2 separate regions of the Homo sapiens genome follow, and region 2 is linked to region 1. A link means that fine-mapping ties the variant in region 1 to the expression of a gene that starts in the linked region. Tissue or cell type: testis. Region 1 holds a variant in brackets; the other region holds the start of a gene. All regions are shown on one strand. Distances are from middle to middle.

Evidence for each region. PIP is the estimated chance that this variant, and not a neighbour inherited with it, causes the effect.
Region 2: it holds the start of LINC01176, and the variant in region 1 is fine-mapped to the expression of LINC01176 in testis (GTEx, PIP above 0.99).

What each region holds. Positions count from the first base shown.
Region 1 is chr7:30,190,870-30,198,975 of GRCh38, reverse strand. LOC124901607 (a long non-coding RNA gene) reads right to left here. Exons shown (of 3, transcript XR_007060274.1): 1 at 1-8,106. Among named protein-coding and RNA genes, the nearest start is that of MTURN, 60 kb to the right of the region's middle. The variant T/C (reference allele first, on the strand shown) is at 4,850.
Region 2 is chr7:30,387,794-30,395,899 of GRCh38, reverse strand. It overlaps LINC01176 (long intergenic non-protein coding RNA 1176), which reads right to left and starts at 5,015. Exons shown (of 3, transcript NR_108081.1): 1 at 4,865-5,015. RefSeq lists an enhancer at 4,215-4,833.

The DNA of each region.
Region 1 (8,106 bases):
CTCCAGCCCCTGCCTATTTGCAGACAGTCACTTCTCTGTTGTGCTGCTCATTGCAACCTTGCAACGTATTTTCATAGCTTCTCTAATAAATCTGCCTTTCTTTATCTACAACTGTCTTGGTAAATTCCTTTATGGCCCATGACACCAGCCCCAGCTATTCGCACCTACAATATTTCTTTGGCTCTTACAGGGACCTCTCTCCCCTTTCCCTTTCTCTCTTCCAACTGGGGACCCTTCGTGGACAGCACACAAAAACAGAAACAACTGACAGTCTCTGGCAGGGCTATACCCTGATGAAGCTAGAAGGTGTCCATGTGGAAGCATCTTACCACCATCACCTGATCAGATGAGGGACCTTAGTTCAGTTTCTCCTTTTCAGTCTTCCAGCAGCCAACGTCTAGTATCCCTTTGTCAACTTACAGTAACTGGTCAGGGCTGCTCTCTGGTGTTGCCTGAAGTCCAGGGGGTAAACAGGGTTGGCTGTCTTTCCCAGAAGGGAATAAGGCTCTCTCTTATCCTTTCTAGTCAAAAGCCCCCAATCCTTACTTATAGCATGATTGGTGGTGAAAGCTCAACCAAGACAAACCTGCACATGTTCTGGGGAACTCGGACCACCTCTTTCTCACTCTAAATTCTCCCATGAAGACAGCCAGACTTCCTGCTCCAGGTGTTCCCAAATCAGGTGATCTCAAGTGGCCACAGAGCAGTGAGTCTCCCCATTCCTCTCCCCTCTTCTAGGTTGCTTTCCAGCTGAGTTCTCCCTTCACCCTCATTCCTCATGCCTGGACTGGCCATACAGCGTAAGGCCCTACGCCAGGAGATCCTTCCTAATAGGTGGGACACCCCTCTAGGAATGCATCTGAGAAGTCCCCCAGTGGACTTGAGTGGAACCCCTTTCTTCAGTGGGATGCCTGCCCCAAGAGAAAGTGCGACTTGTGTCCCACTCTAGTAGACATCATCCTCAGTTGCTTGTCGTTTTCTAGTCTCACCATGGGACAAACCCCATCTTTTCATTCAGAGCCACCTCTGGGTTACATTCTAAAACATTAGGATAAATTTAATCCTCAGATTCTCAAAAAGGAGCATCTAGTTTTCTTGTGTAACACAGCATGGCCCCATTGCAGGAAGTCCTCAAATTAGCCTCCTCAGTTTTTTATAACTGAGAGCAGAATAGGGAGGACAGGGCTAAGAAGAAAGAAAAACAAAGGGACAAGAGGCAGGCTCAGCTGCTGGCTGCTTTACAAGCCCCCAGCCCCTTCCAGGTTGCCCTAAGAACATCCCTCCAGGTAACTGCCACCAGTGCAGAAGGCCAGGCCACTGGAAAGCAAACTGACCCAAAGGAATAAACGGAAAAAGCCCTCTGTGTCTTGCCCCCTCTGTCACAAGCTTGGCCACTGGAAACAAGACTGCCCTGAGAGCTGAAGTGTCCCTGGGACAGAATTCCAACCTCTGATGGCCCTGAGAGAAAGGGGCTCTCTGCTCCAGCTGGCTTCCAAATCAAACATTATCATCAACAAGACAAAGCCAAGGACAACCCTAGAGATGGAAAGTAAAATGATAAATTTCCCTTTTGGGTTCAAGAGCTGCCTACTCTGTACTAATCTCCTTCTCTGAGCAACTCTCCTCCAAATCCTGTTGGGTAATTGGAGCAAATGACACCCCCTCCCTCCAAAAGAAAAGATTCACATTTCTTTATGTTACTGAAGGGTCCAATTACCATTCTCCCAAGTCCCCAGTAATGTCTAAATACTTCATACCCCTTTGGGACGGAAATATACTTTCCAAGATGGGTGCCTGCTTTAATATTTGCCCAACCTCTGCATTCATCTTTCCCTCTAATAGTCCTATTTCTCCCAGGAAAGCTACCTAAATCTTTAACCAATAACTTCAACCTAAATAGTCCTACCTAACTCAGGGTTTTAAAAATAGCTCACACTTATTCAGACAAGTCCTAGCAAGAATCTAACCCAACAATTTCTTGAGGGGGGATAACCTACAGTATGTAGATCACCTCCTCATTTGCTCCCCCTTCATGGACAATATGTATTAACACAGCAATATGCAGTACAAACCTTAACTTCCTAACAAAATAAAATAATTTTTGTCTAATTCAAAGGTTATTTAAAGGTTTTATATTAAACAAGATCAAAGGAATCAGGAAATAAGAGAGACATAAAAAAGTTATAAAAGTAAAGAGGTATTTTTTGGTAAGGAAGGTTGTAGAAAAGAGGATTTATATAAGAAAGGATCTTGTATGGTAAATTCTTGGCCTAAAGTAAAATGACTGGTTGTTTTAAAAAGAGGGATGTTTAGGACAAGACAGAAAGTCCAAGTGTGTCATAGATGGTCTGCATAAGTCATGAGAAAATCTATGAATGGAAATTTATAAAAGGAATATTGTATGTAATTAAGGTATAGTAGTCTCTCTAAAATTGGTTCCCTATGCTGTGTCTAATTAAATTTAAACACTTTTTCATTGAGTTCAACTTCCAGGTTATCTAAATGGGCTTCCAATAAGGACAAACAGTCACACTGCAAAAGGTTTTTCTTTGCCTTTTTGGTAACTGGCTTAAGAAACAAAATTTCCCCTACTGGAATTGAGCAGTTTCACCTTCAAATGATGCTGTGAATGGAATATCTGTCTCACCCCAGGGATGCCTGCTACCTTTATGAATCTCCCCTGGATTCTGCAAGACACCAGTTTCACCTTGACATGTTCCCCCTTTGTGATGAGTCCCTTCCTCCAGCAAGATGCAATATCCTAAGTACCACAATCCGGGACAATGACCTACAGGGTCTCCTATCAGACCAACAACCATAGGTAGGGTCAATTCTACACCCCAGGCCAGCAGGAAGTAGTTGGAAGACGAGTTCTCTGCCCCAATGCCAAAGATTTGTCATTGTTTTCTCTTGGGGTGGAATGTAGGGTCCTGAAAGGTAAGCAACAATGAGGAAGGGGCCCCAGGTGGGGAGAACCATGAATAATTTTTCTGAGAGATGGCTAATTACAAACAACCCAAAGGCACAATGACCTTATTCCACATGTAGCCCCAGCAGCACAACCTTCTTCCACTTGTAGCCCCCTTCAGCACGACCCTGTAAACTCTCCTCCGGCCCCTGCCTCTTCGCAAGTAGCCCCTTCTCTGCTGTGCTGCCTATTGCAACCTTGCAACATACTTTCATATCTTCTCTAATAATTCTGCCTTTCTATACCTACAACTGTCTTGGTAAATTCCTTTATTGCCCATGACACCAGCCCCAGCTAGTCACACTGATGACAAGTCTCAGGGGTTATGCAGGCTTCTAGGGCAAAAACATGTGCCAGACACTGTTGTGTGAAACAGGGTCCCCAGTCCTGATTGCAGGAAGCTATTTTATCCTATTCAGTAGCAGCATGAGGTTCTCCTGGCATGGTCATATGCTTCATGATGTATTTTCTGATGTGTTTTTCTCCTCTGTCTTTCCACCATGTGTCCTTTCCGCATCAGTCAACTTGGCACAGTATCCTTGCCTCTGGGATAAGGAGGCACAGCGGAAAGTTGAGAAAACATTTAAAGAGTCAGTTCTTGGCTTTTAATTTCCAAAAGCCTAAGCCTTGGGAGCAATAGGAAAAACACAGGGCATGTGCATTAGATTTGCAAGAGTATCTGATGGGAGGACATAAAGTTTACCTCATCCCCCCTGCCCCCTGCCTCACCCAGACTAAAGTTCTCCCAGTTAGGTAAAGGACAGCAGAGAAGCAGCAGTGGTTGACACTGGTGGGTTGTGGAGAGGTACACCATGCCTGCTCCAGACTGAGACTCAGAGAGGGGCAGGCAGGAAGCCACAGTCTGAGAGAGCAGAGTGAGTGGGAGATCTGTGGAAGTGGCAAGATGGCAGAGCTGGGCTGCGGAACTTACCAAGTTTTCCATGACAGCAGTTGGCTCACATGTGCCCAAGGGTGGCACTAAACTAGCACAAAGAGCAGGGACAGAAGGGGTCACTCACCAGTGAATCAACAACCAAAACAGCAAATGACTACAATCCACAACCCAAGTCCCAAGCAGGGCCTCTGAGAGGTGCTCGACCACCACTGTATGATACACAGCATAGCTGGGCCCAGATCTCCTTCCAGACCTCTGGCCCTCGAAATTGGGACAGGTTTCCCTGCCTCCTGCTGCCCCCACCCAGCCCTGGTCCTAGGTCTCACATGCTGGTGCTACATGAGTCCTCTGGAACTCAGACAATCTCAAAAGGAGGAAGAGATGGGAGTTATGATGGAAATTAACTTCTGCTGAAGAAAAACGATATTTTATTTCATGCACACGTGTGTTTGTGGAATGAGATTTATACTTAATATGATTGACTAGCAAATAATTTAATCCTAAAGGTATGGTTTATTCCAATGAATGGTGACAGAAAAAAGGGTCTAGCTTCACAGAGCTCATGGATAGACACACATGCACACAACACATATAAATATACACACTGGTACACACATAACCCCTACACACCTGTACAAACACATGCACTAGAGACAGAGACACAAAGACATGTACAGCATCTCACACTCATAGACACATACACCACACATACATACACACGCACACCATACACACACACACCACAGTGACATACCACACACATATATACCATATATATGTGTATATATATATATACACACATATATATACACAAATATGTTTACTACTTTACACCTACTTAGCTTGTCTACACCACCCATAGCCTGATGGTTTCCTCACTACTCGAAGTGCTGTGGGCTTAATTACCATCTACTATGGGTGCTGAATTCGTGTCACATGTCTTTGATTATCCAAATCTGATCTCAACTCCACTGGAGCAGAGGCAT[T/C]GCAGTCTCTACAGAGACTTGTCTTGTTATTTCTCCCATATCCTTGTTCTCAATCCTTCGATGACTTTCAGCTTGACCCATGAACATAGGCATAGCTGAGACCCCTTTCGGGCCACGTCAGCACCCTAGGGATGATAAGGTGATGATATGGAAGGAACCTGAACCTCTGACTACTTCACAGTGCCAGCATGGACTTTCATATGAAAAAGAGCTAAACTTTCCCATCTAAGCTACTGCTATTTGGGGTCTCTGTTGAAGCTGCTAATAATATATCCCAATTAATACAGTACTTGAATTTTAATGTTTTTTGTGAATCAGAGAGAAAGCCTTGGTCCCACATAAGATGAAGAATGAGAATTGAAACCCCCTTATGAAACTGTCACTCCGCAGAGCTATATACTTAACAAAACAGTTAGCTAGGGTAAAATCCATTCATCAGCAAACTGAGACAACAAGGAAACTTGTCTGTTTTTGTCCTACTTTGCATGGGGAAAATGTATTCCATGATCGTTCCTAACCACACGCCCGCTTCCATTTTAGGACTTGAAATTTACATTGCTTGCACGATATGGTAAAAGAAAAGAACATAAAACTTGGTTCTAAGCCTGTAATACCCCTGAGACATTAGGCAGAATCAAAAGCAGAACCACCCTGGAGGGCCACATCTTCAACCCAGACCATGTAGATAAAGCCTGACTAAAGTGAGATTACAAACCATATAAGAAAACAACCCACCAAGAACAAGAGTCAGCATATGGAGCAAAACATACAGGAAAGGGCTCTCTGGTCTTCAGCCAACACCAGTCTCTGATGTTACACTTTTTCCCAAGCCCATGGCTCTCATGCCAATCTCAGGGACAGGGCTCTTTGTCAAACTGGGACCCTGGTGTCTGGGCTTTAGTCTCTAAGTGCACCAGACACATGCCCCTGTGAAGTCCTGCTGTCAAACCCAGGAACTCAAATGGAGCATGGCATATCCCTTCTTGGGACTACATTCTGCAGGCCCTTTTCCTGTCTTGGGAGAAAATGTCACACACACACACACACACACACACACACACACACACACACACACACGTGCACACACACACATCTCATTTGGGTGATTTAACTCTTACAGGACTCAAAGTCCTTTTTGCCACTCCTACTCTAATTCTTCTGCAGTGGATACAAAACAAAAAGTGATATCAAAAATTATCTTGTAACCAAAGAAGGTATTTTCAGATGCTTTAGAAAGGGTATAATCTCCTAGAATTATTAGCTTAGACAGAGAAGCGACTTCCAAAGTGGAGCCTTTCATTCCCTCTGCTCGATGTGGCCCTCTCCTTCCTTTTCATCCCAGCTCCTGCTGATCCTTCAGGATTCAGCTGAAGTGTCACCTCTTCCAAGATTTCCCAGACCCTGGGGTCGTGCTTAGACAACACTCAATAACAAGAATAAGAAGAATAATAAGAACAATAACCGGTATTTATGCAGCACTTACATTGTTGTGAGCTCTTTGTATATGGTACCTCATTTCAACCTCACAACAATTTTCTAAGATTGGTGAAATTACCATCTTCTTTTTATAGATGAGGAAACTGAGGCATACAATTAAATACATTGTCCAAAGTCAAACAGGAAGCATCATCATTGGGATCCAAACCTATATGGTTGGCCTGCAGAGGACTTCTGTCTGAGTTTGTGTTCTCCAAAAGTAGACCCTTGAGATTAGGGTTTGGGTGCAAATGCTCTATTTGGGAGGTGATCCCAGGATACCCAGGTGAGGAATAGGGGAGTGAGACAGAGAAAGGAGGAAAGCCAGCAAAAGGGTCCATCTATGGACAATTCAGCCCAACCTGCCAGGGACCTTCTGAAGGGTTAAGAAAAGAACACCTCTGAACTATTCCACCCGGAAGTAGGGGAGCTGGGGTGCTGAAACTCTAAATGCAATCCTTCATGGGTTAAAGATTTGTCCCTGAGTCCTAACCACTCAGCACTTCCAACCTGTCCTGTGGCTGGGTTGAGCACACACCTACACAGGACCTTGAGCTAGAAAGCCGACAATATTCATGAAAACTGTCTTCTGATGCCACAGGGGACGTCCAGGGTGGAGCTGACACAGATGAGCCAGGCCAGCAGCATGAGCTGCACCAGCCCCTCCCACATTACACTGTCCCGCCCCCTTGTCTTTCCTCTATTATAATGGCATTTATCAGATCATTGTGAAGTTGGTGGCCCAGGTGTCTGCTGTATTAATCAGAATTCTTGCTTGTAAGTCGAGAAAGCCTCAACTTCCATTAACTTAAACAAAAAAGTGACCTTGTTGGTTCCTGTAACTACAAAGTCAGACACCCAACCATCTAGGAGGAGTTACAGCTAGACCCAGGAACTCAAGCATCTGTCTACCCACCTTTTAGATCTCCTTTCCTCTGTGTTGGCTCTAATTTCAGGCAAGCTTTTTCCATGAGGCGGCAAAGGCAGCTCCTGACATCTCCAGGCTCACCCTGTTCTTATTTGCTGTTTCAGATGGCGGGTGCCTTCCTCATTAGCTCCACCAAAAGTCCTGGGGAAGGATTTAAATGGCTGAACTCAGGTCATGTGTCAATTTCTGAACCAATCACAATGGTCAAAAGGATTGTGATACTCTGATTAGCCAGGGCTGGTCACACCCTCCTCCTTGGAGCTAGCAGAGGTGACATTAGTGCCAATGAAACCACACTGACTGCAAGCAGGGCTATGCCGTAAAGAGATGATGGGCAGAAGCAAGCCTGCATCCATGATGCTTCTCCTCAGGGCCAGGCTGTTGTTTCCTCCATTGTACAGATGGCATCTGACTTCACTGAGTAGTCCCAGCTCCTCACCAGCACATGCACATGAAACATGCTTCCTCGACACTTGTTGAATGAATGAATGAGGCTCAGGAGCATTCTGAAGGGGAAATATCCACAGGTGTCTGAAAGGCTTTGTGAAGTTGTTATCATCCTGAGGTTAGGATTATTCCAGTGCTTGTCTTACTTGGCATAGGTGTCCTTCAAATGCAGGCCCACTCTACCTCCAGCCTGGTCTTCAGCCAGCCCTCCCACAGGCCCACGCTCCTCCCTCTCCCTGGAGCTCTTTCCTTGCCCTCTTTGCCAGCCTTGACCTCCTGGGCTCAGATGATCCTCCCACCTCAGCCTCCCAGGTAGATGGGATTACAGGTGCGTGCCATCATGCCCAGCTAACTTTTTTTTTTTTTTTTTTGGTAGAGATTAGTTTTCGCCATGTTGCCCAGGTTG
Region 2 (8,106 bases), 200 kb before region 1:
CTTGTGGCCATGGTCAGTTGGTTCTCTTCAGATTCTCCAGACTGATTTGCGAGAACTGTTTACATTCACTCAGGAAATCTGCCCACCTCAAGGCACAAGTAGTTGGCTCATACCTACTGTGATGTATGTTACTGTATTAATCTGTTCTCGTACTGCTAATAAAGACATACCCAAGCGTGGGTAATTTACAAATGAAAGAGGCTTAATGGACTCACAGTTCCAAATGGCTGGGGAGGCCTCACAATCAATGGCAGAAGGCAAGAAGGAGCAAAGTCACCTCTTACATGGTGGCAGGCAAGACAGCGTGTACAGAACTCCACTTTATAAAACCATCAGATCTCATGAGACTTCTTCACTATCACAAGAATAGCACGGGAAAGACTCGCCCCCATGAATGAATTACCTCCTACTGGGTCCCTCTCACGACACGTGGGGATTATTACAATTCAAGGTGAGATTTGGGTGGGAACACAGACCCAAACCATATCATTTGCACTCCCAATACAGATGACCCCACATTCCTACATGGCTTCTTTTCAACCAACAAATCAAAATTTGAGAGATGCAGCTAAAGCAGTACAACAGATTGCAGAGGAAATTATAGCATTCTATACAAACTCTTTCAGAAAATGAAAGGGGAGAGAACACTTCTCAACTTTCTTAATGAGCCCTCCATTACCCTGACACCAAAACCAAAGATACTGCAAGAAAACAACAGACCATGTCCTTCACAGACATACATATAAAAAGTCTTCAACCACATTTTAGCAAATTGAATCCATAAATACATAAAAAGTTGGGTCAACATTCAAAAATTAATCAAGGAAGTCATCCTATCAGCTGATTAGAAAAATCATATGATTTCATTTGATGGGGAAAAAAATTGCCAAAATTCAATATCCAGTCATAATAAATCCTCTTAGCAAAAGACTGAATGCTTTCCCTTTAAGTTCAAGAACACGCAAGGCTCTCGGCTGTTAGTAGTGAGATCTATTCATATTAGCCAATGTAATAAGGGAGGAGTGAGAGAGGGAAGGGGAGAGAAGGGACAGAGGTGGAAAGTGACACATGAAGGGAAGGAGGAGCAAACAATAAAAAGAGAAAAAAAGAAAAGAAAAGGCGTACAGATTAGAAAGGAATAAATGGTTTCGATCTGTGGACAACATAATTGTCTATGCAGAAAATTCCAGAGAATCTACAAAAAAAAAAAAAAAAGCTACTAGAACAAGTAAGTGAGTTTAGGAAGATCACAGGATACAAAAGGAAATATAGAAAAATCAGTCAGTTTCATATAACAGCAATGAACTGAATATTAAAAACTTTAAAACAGTATTATTTACAATTTACAATAGCACTAAAAATCATGAATACTCAAGTATAAACCTATCAAATTATGTAAAAGATTTGTATATTGAAAACCATAAAACGCTGATGAAAGACACTTTAAAATACTGAAATAGGCTGGGTGTGGTGGCTCACGACTGTAATCCCAGCACTTTGGGAAGCTGAGGCTGGCAGATCACGAGGTCAGGAGTTTGAGACCAGCCCAACCAACATGGTGAAACCCCATCTCGACTAAAAATACAAAAATTATCCGGGCGTGGTAGCACGTGCCTGTAATCCCAGCTACTCAGGAGGCTGAGGCAGGAGAATCACTTGAACCCAGGAAGTGGAGGTTGCAGTGAGCCAAGATTGCACCACTGCACTCCAGCCTGGGTGACAGAGAGAGACTCTGTCTCAAAAAAAACAAAAACAAACAAACAAAAAACTGAAATAAATGGTGAGATATATTACATTCACTGGTAACAGGACTCAATATTGTTAAGATGTCAAAATTGATCTATAGGTTCAATGCAATCCCAATCAAAATCCCAGTAGGAAGTCTGGTAGTAATTAATAGGCTGATTCCAAAATTTATATGGAGGGGCAAAGGAGCTATAAAAACTAAAACATTTGAGGAAAAAAAAAATAAAGCTGGAGGACTCACACTACCCAATTTCAAAACTTACTACAAAGCCACAGTAATTAAGACAGTATAGTCATAAAGAAGGGGCAGACACAGATGCAGAAAAGAAAATTCAGAAATAAATCCACACCCATGAATAACTGATTTTAAACAAGGTGTAAAGATAATACAGTGGATAAAGAACAGTCTTTTTAACAAATAATGCTAGAATAAGTGTATATACATACACAAAAACAAAAACAAAACTCTCCACCCATTGCTTGCACCACATAAAAAAAGTAACTAGAAATGGATCATACCTTAACTGCAATACCTAAATCTTCTACAACAAGAGTTAGCAAACTAAGGCTCATGGGCCAAATCTTTATCTGTTTTTGTAAAAACAGTTTTACTGAACACCTATTCATTTATGTATTTTATGGCTGCTTACATGCTACAACAGTGACTATGACCTGTAAAGCCTAAAATATTTTCTATTTGGCCCTTTACAGAAAAAGTTTGCTCACCTCTTTTCTAGAAGACAGATCTTTGTAACTTTGGGTTTACCAAACATTTCTTAGATTTGACACCAAAAGCACAATTCAAAAAAGAAAAAGACCCAATAAATTGAACTTCCATCAAAATTTTAAATGTCTGCTCTTCAAAAGACATTGCTAAGAAAACAAAAGAACAAGCCAGACTGGGAGAAAATAGAAAATACTTGCAAGTCATATATATATGTATATATATATGACATATATATATATGTATATATATATGACATATATATATGTCGTATATATATATGACATATATATATGTGTATATATATGACATATATATGTATATATGACATATATATGTATATATGACATATATATGTATATATATGACATATATATGTATATATATGACATATATGTGTATATATATGACATATATATGTATATATGACATATATGTATATATATGCCATATATATGTATATATATGCCATATATATGTATATATGCCATATATGTATATATGTCATATATATGTATATATATGTGACATATATATGTATATATATGACATATATATGTGTATATGACATATATATGTATATATATATGACATATATATGTATATATATGACATATATATGTTATATATATGACATATATATGTATATATATACATATATATGTATATATGACATATATATGTATATATTTGACATATATATTTGACATATATATATTTGACATATATATATATTTGACATATATATATATATATTTGACATATATATATATATATATATAATTTTTTTTTTTTTAAAGACAGGGTGTCACTCTGTCTCCCAGGCTGAAGTGCAGCAGCACAATCATGGCTCACTACAGCCACAACCGCCCAGGTAGCTGGGACAAAAGGCGTGTGCCACCACCATGCCTGGCTAATTTTTTGTATTTTTTGTACTTTTTTTTTTTTTTGTAGAGATGGGGTTTCACCATGCTGCCCAGGCTTGTCTCGAACTCCTGGGCTCAAGCAATTTGCCCACCTTGGCCTCCCAAAGTGCTGGGATTACAAGCGTGAGCCACCACACCTGGCCAAAACCATATTTTTGATAAAGGATTTGTATCAAGAATATACAAAGAATTCTCAAGATTCAGTAAGAAAACATACAATCCAGTTTTTCAAAAATGTGCCAAAGGGTTGAATAGACACTTCACTAAAGAAAATATACCTGTAGCAAAGAAGAATATGAAAAAATACACAACATCATTTGCATTGGGAGAATGAAAATGAAAAACACAATGAAATGCACCGTATACCCAAGTCAAAACAAAAAAATAGCAAAAACATCAAAACTGCAGACAATATCAAATTCTGGTGAGGATGCCAATCACCTGGAATTTTCATACATTTTTGGTGGGAATGCAAAGTGGCACCACCAGTTTGCAAACCTGTTTGGCAATTTCCTACTAAGTATATATACATATTTATCATATAACTAGCTATCCCACTCCTAGGAATGTACTCAAGAGAAACAAAATCTTTGATTCACATAAAAACTTCTAGGTGAGGCCGGGCGCAGTGGCTGACGCCTGTAATCCCAGCACTTTGCGGGACAGAGGCAGGCGGATCATGAGGTCAAGAGATCAAGACCATCCTGGCCAACATGGTGAAACCCAGTCTCTACTAAAAATGCAAAAATTAGCTGGGCGTGGTGGCATGTGCCTGTAATCCCAGCTACTAGGGAGGCTGAGGCAGGAGAATCACTTGAACCTGGGAGGCGGAGGTTGCAGTGAGCCAAGATCGGACCACTGCACTCCAGCCTGGCGACAGAGCGAGACTCTGTCTCAAAAACAAAACAAAACAAAACAAAAAAACTTCTAGGTGAATGTTAACAGCAGCTTAACCACTGTCACTAAAAACTGGAACCAACACAAATCTTCCACTAGTAAATGGATGAGTAAACTATGGATTGCCACTCAGCAATTAAAAGGACCAAGCTGCTGAATACACATGACAACATGGATGACTCAAATGATTATGCTAAGTGGAAGAAGCTGGGCTTCTGTGATTTTCTATTCTCATTCATATTCAAGTTGCTTGGGTAACTTGTAATCTTTATCGCTTGCCACACATTATTCTTGAATAAGTATTTAACGGGAGTCTCCTGACGCTTGAGATGAGCCCTCTTCCAGAGAGATCTTGCTGTGCTTCTGCCGAATTCAGATTTTGAGAATCCTTGGCCCAACCAGCTATGTATATTTGAGAAGCTAATCTTCAGGGAAGCAGATATGCACAGGCCTTCCAGGGAAATTGTATTTTCTATTTCTTTTCCTCCCTGCTCCAAGAGCACCAAGGTAGCCACAGTTCATTACAACTGCTGGGAAGAGGGCACTGGGTTCAGCTCTGACTCCTCCTTACCTTTAGCTCCTTGTTATCCGATTCCTGTTGGTAGGGTCTCCTGCAAGCACACTGTCTTGCGTGGGCTCTGTGCTTTAACATGTTTTCTTGGCTCAGCCAGGCCACAGAAACAGCAGACAAGTGTTTGTGGTATCAGCAACTGCTGTCTCAGCACAGGCAGCTTTTTGTTCCAGTATTCCATTTCCCTCCCTGGTTATAGACTTTTATCCAAAAACTGGCCTGGAAGTTCAATGTTTTTTTAGTTCTTCACTTAAAAAAAGCCATTATTTTGTTTCTTCAAGTTTTCATAACCAGCCATCACCAGAAACTGGAAGTCCAAACATGCTCTTATTATTTAAGTAATTGGTGTACATGGTATAAATTCACGTCTTACAGAAAGATGCACAATGAAAAAAAGCAGCCTCTCCATGGCCCCTCCTCCCAATTCCAGTCCCACCCACTCCAAGTAAAGCAAAAAGTGCTTTAGTTGTATTTCTAAACGTTCCTACAACAGATATCTATTATTTTGCAATGGGAAAAATTTTACTTTAAAACATCCCCGGAACTTCTAATCTTCTGATACTTATAACCTCCATATCTCCAAGTAACATCTTTCTCTGTCTCTTGGTTCACAAACTCCTATGTCCAATATCTCCCACCTAAAAATGATGCCCTTTATAATCCCCTTGAAAAAGTGGAGTATACTTACCTCCTTGCCACAATCCCAATATGTTAGTCTTATTATTTCTTAGCTTACTGAGTGCCAACTATGTGCCAGGCAGTGCTTTAGAACCCATGGATACAATAGTGATCAAAACTAACAAAGTCCTTGACTTCACAGTGCTTACATTCTGGAAGAAGAGTGACAATAAACAAACATAAGATTTGTCAGGTAAATGTTATAGAAAAATAGAACAAGGTAAAGGAAACAGGGAATGTAGGGGTGAGGGCAGATTCATGAACTTATTTTGTATTGTATAGTTAAGGAAGGGCACTCAGATAAGGCGATATCTGAGCCAACGCAACAAAGGAAGTGAAAGAGGAAGCCTGTGGATACTTGGAGGAATTGTTATAGGCAGAAGGAAGAAGTGCCAAGGCCCTGACACAGGGGCTTGCTTGCCTGGTGTATTCCAGGAATAGCTTCAGGGGAACAAGTCAGGGGTGAGCAGGAGAAGATGAGCTAGAGAGGCAGGAGTGAGTGGCATGTACATGTCTGTGTGTATGCATACATGCACACTCCGGATGGCTGAGGGTATTTTAGGTCATGGTAAAGACCTTAGCTTTGGCTCTGAGTAAGATGGGAGCCAAGGGGGATTTTCAGCAGAGTAGTACCATGATCTGACGCTGTATTTGTTAACTTATAATGACCCCTATATTCCTTGATCCATCAACTTTAGACCAAAATGTTCATCGAAACATTTTTTGTAACAGTAAAATATTGGGGGAAATTATTTGACCACAAGCATTGTCTAAAGATATTATGGTACAACTACGAAATGGAATACTATGCAAATACAAAACATGATAAATGGAATGTTAGAAATGTGGTTCTAAAATACCACATATAATGTTATCCTGTGAATATATATGCATTGAAGAGTATGGAAAGACATATGCCAACAAATAAGGAGAAAAAAGTCTCTGGGGAGATGGGAAAAGGAGAAATATGAAGGTATTTTTTCCTTTGTGCCTTGTGTTTCCAAAAGTTCCTACAACACATATCTATTATTTTGCAGTGGGGAAAATTTTACTTTAAAACATCCAAGGCCAGGCGTGGTGGCTCACGCCTGTAATCCCAGCACTTTGGGAGGCCGAGGGGGGTGGATCACCTGAGGTCAGGAGTTCAAAACCAGCCTGGCCAATGTGGTGAAACCCTGTCTCTTCTAAAAATACAAAAATTAGCCTGGTGTGGTGGCGGGCGCCTGTAATCCCAGCTACTCAGGAGGCTGAGGATGGAGAATCGCTTGAACCCGGGAGGTGGAGGTTGCAGTAAGCCGAGATCGCGCCACTGCATTCCAGCCTGGGCGACAAAAGTGAAACACCGTCTAAAAAAAAAAAAAAAAATCCAAAAGATTAGAACCATAAACTAATCATTTTCTTTGTTTTAAGCTCAAAACAATTATATACAGCTCCTATGAGAATAATCAATACTGAATATCAACAAACTGACACGCATGTGGCTACCAAGTCTCTAGAATGACCCACTGAAATTCAGTAAAAGCTTAGAGAGCACAGGGTTAACTGCCATGCTGCACTATTTCCCCTCTTACTTGAACAAAGTAACACTTGCTGATGTAACTGTGCTTGCCAAGTTTTTGATAGTAAGTCCATCATGTCTCGTAACTTCAAAGAGTCTCAAAAGTGTCAAGATCCTAAGACAGGAAACTTCTGGTAGCTGACAATGTCTGGTTAATAGGGGGTTTGGTGAAAGCACAGGCAATGGGCACAGTAGAGAAGCAAGCAGCAAACAATGGAGATGTCCAGGACCATCCTGGCACGTGTTCTCCAGCGTTTCTAGGAAAGGTCTCTGGTCTAGTTATCAACCGCTGTGTAACAAACCATCCCAAACTTAGTGAGATGAAACAACAATCATATATCATCTTCTCTCACAATTCTGGGGATTGACTGGACTCAGCTAGGCAGCTCTCCCTCAGGTCTCTCATCCAGCTCTAGCCAGATGGTGGTTAGGGTGGAATCATCTAGAAGGCTTCCTCACTCACATGTTTGGTGGTTGACGTGGCCAGGGCTTTCTCACACAGCATAGAACCTTGGTTCCACGGAGAACCTTCCTGAGAGAAAGCCAGTTAGAAGCTGTATTACCTATTCTAACTAAGCCCTGGAAGTCATACAGCATCACTTCTGTTGCATTCTGTTAGTTAGAAACAAGTTACTAGGGCCAGTTCATACTCAAGATGAGTGAAATTCAGATTTTGCTTCTTTTTTTTTTTTTTTTTTTTTTTTTTTTTTTTTTTTTTTTGCAGATGGAGTCTCACTCTGTCCCAGGTTGCAGTACAGTGGCATCATCTCCGCTCACTGCAAACTCTGCCTCCCAGGTTCAAGCGATTCTGCTGCCCCAGCCTCCTGAGTAGCTGGGATTACAGGTGTGCACCACCACACCCAGCTAATTTTTGTATTTTTAGTAGAGACGGGGTTTTGCCATGCTGGCCAGGCTGGTCTCGAACTCCTGACCTCAGATAAGTGCTCCAAAGTGAGAGCCATCACTATTATTTGCATAATCTCATTTACACAAACTTGATAAAAGC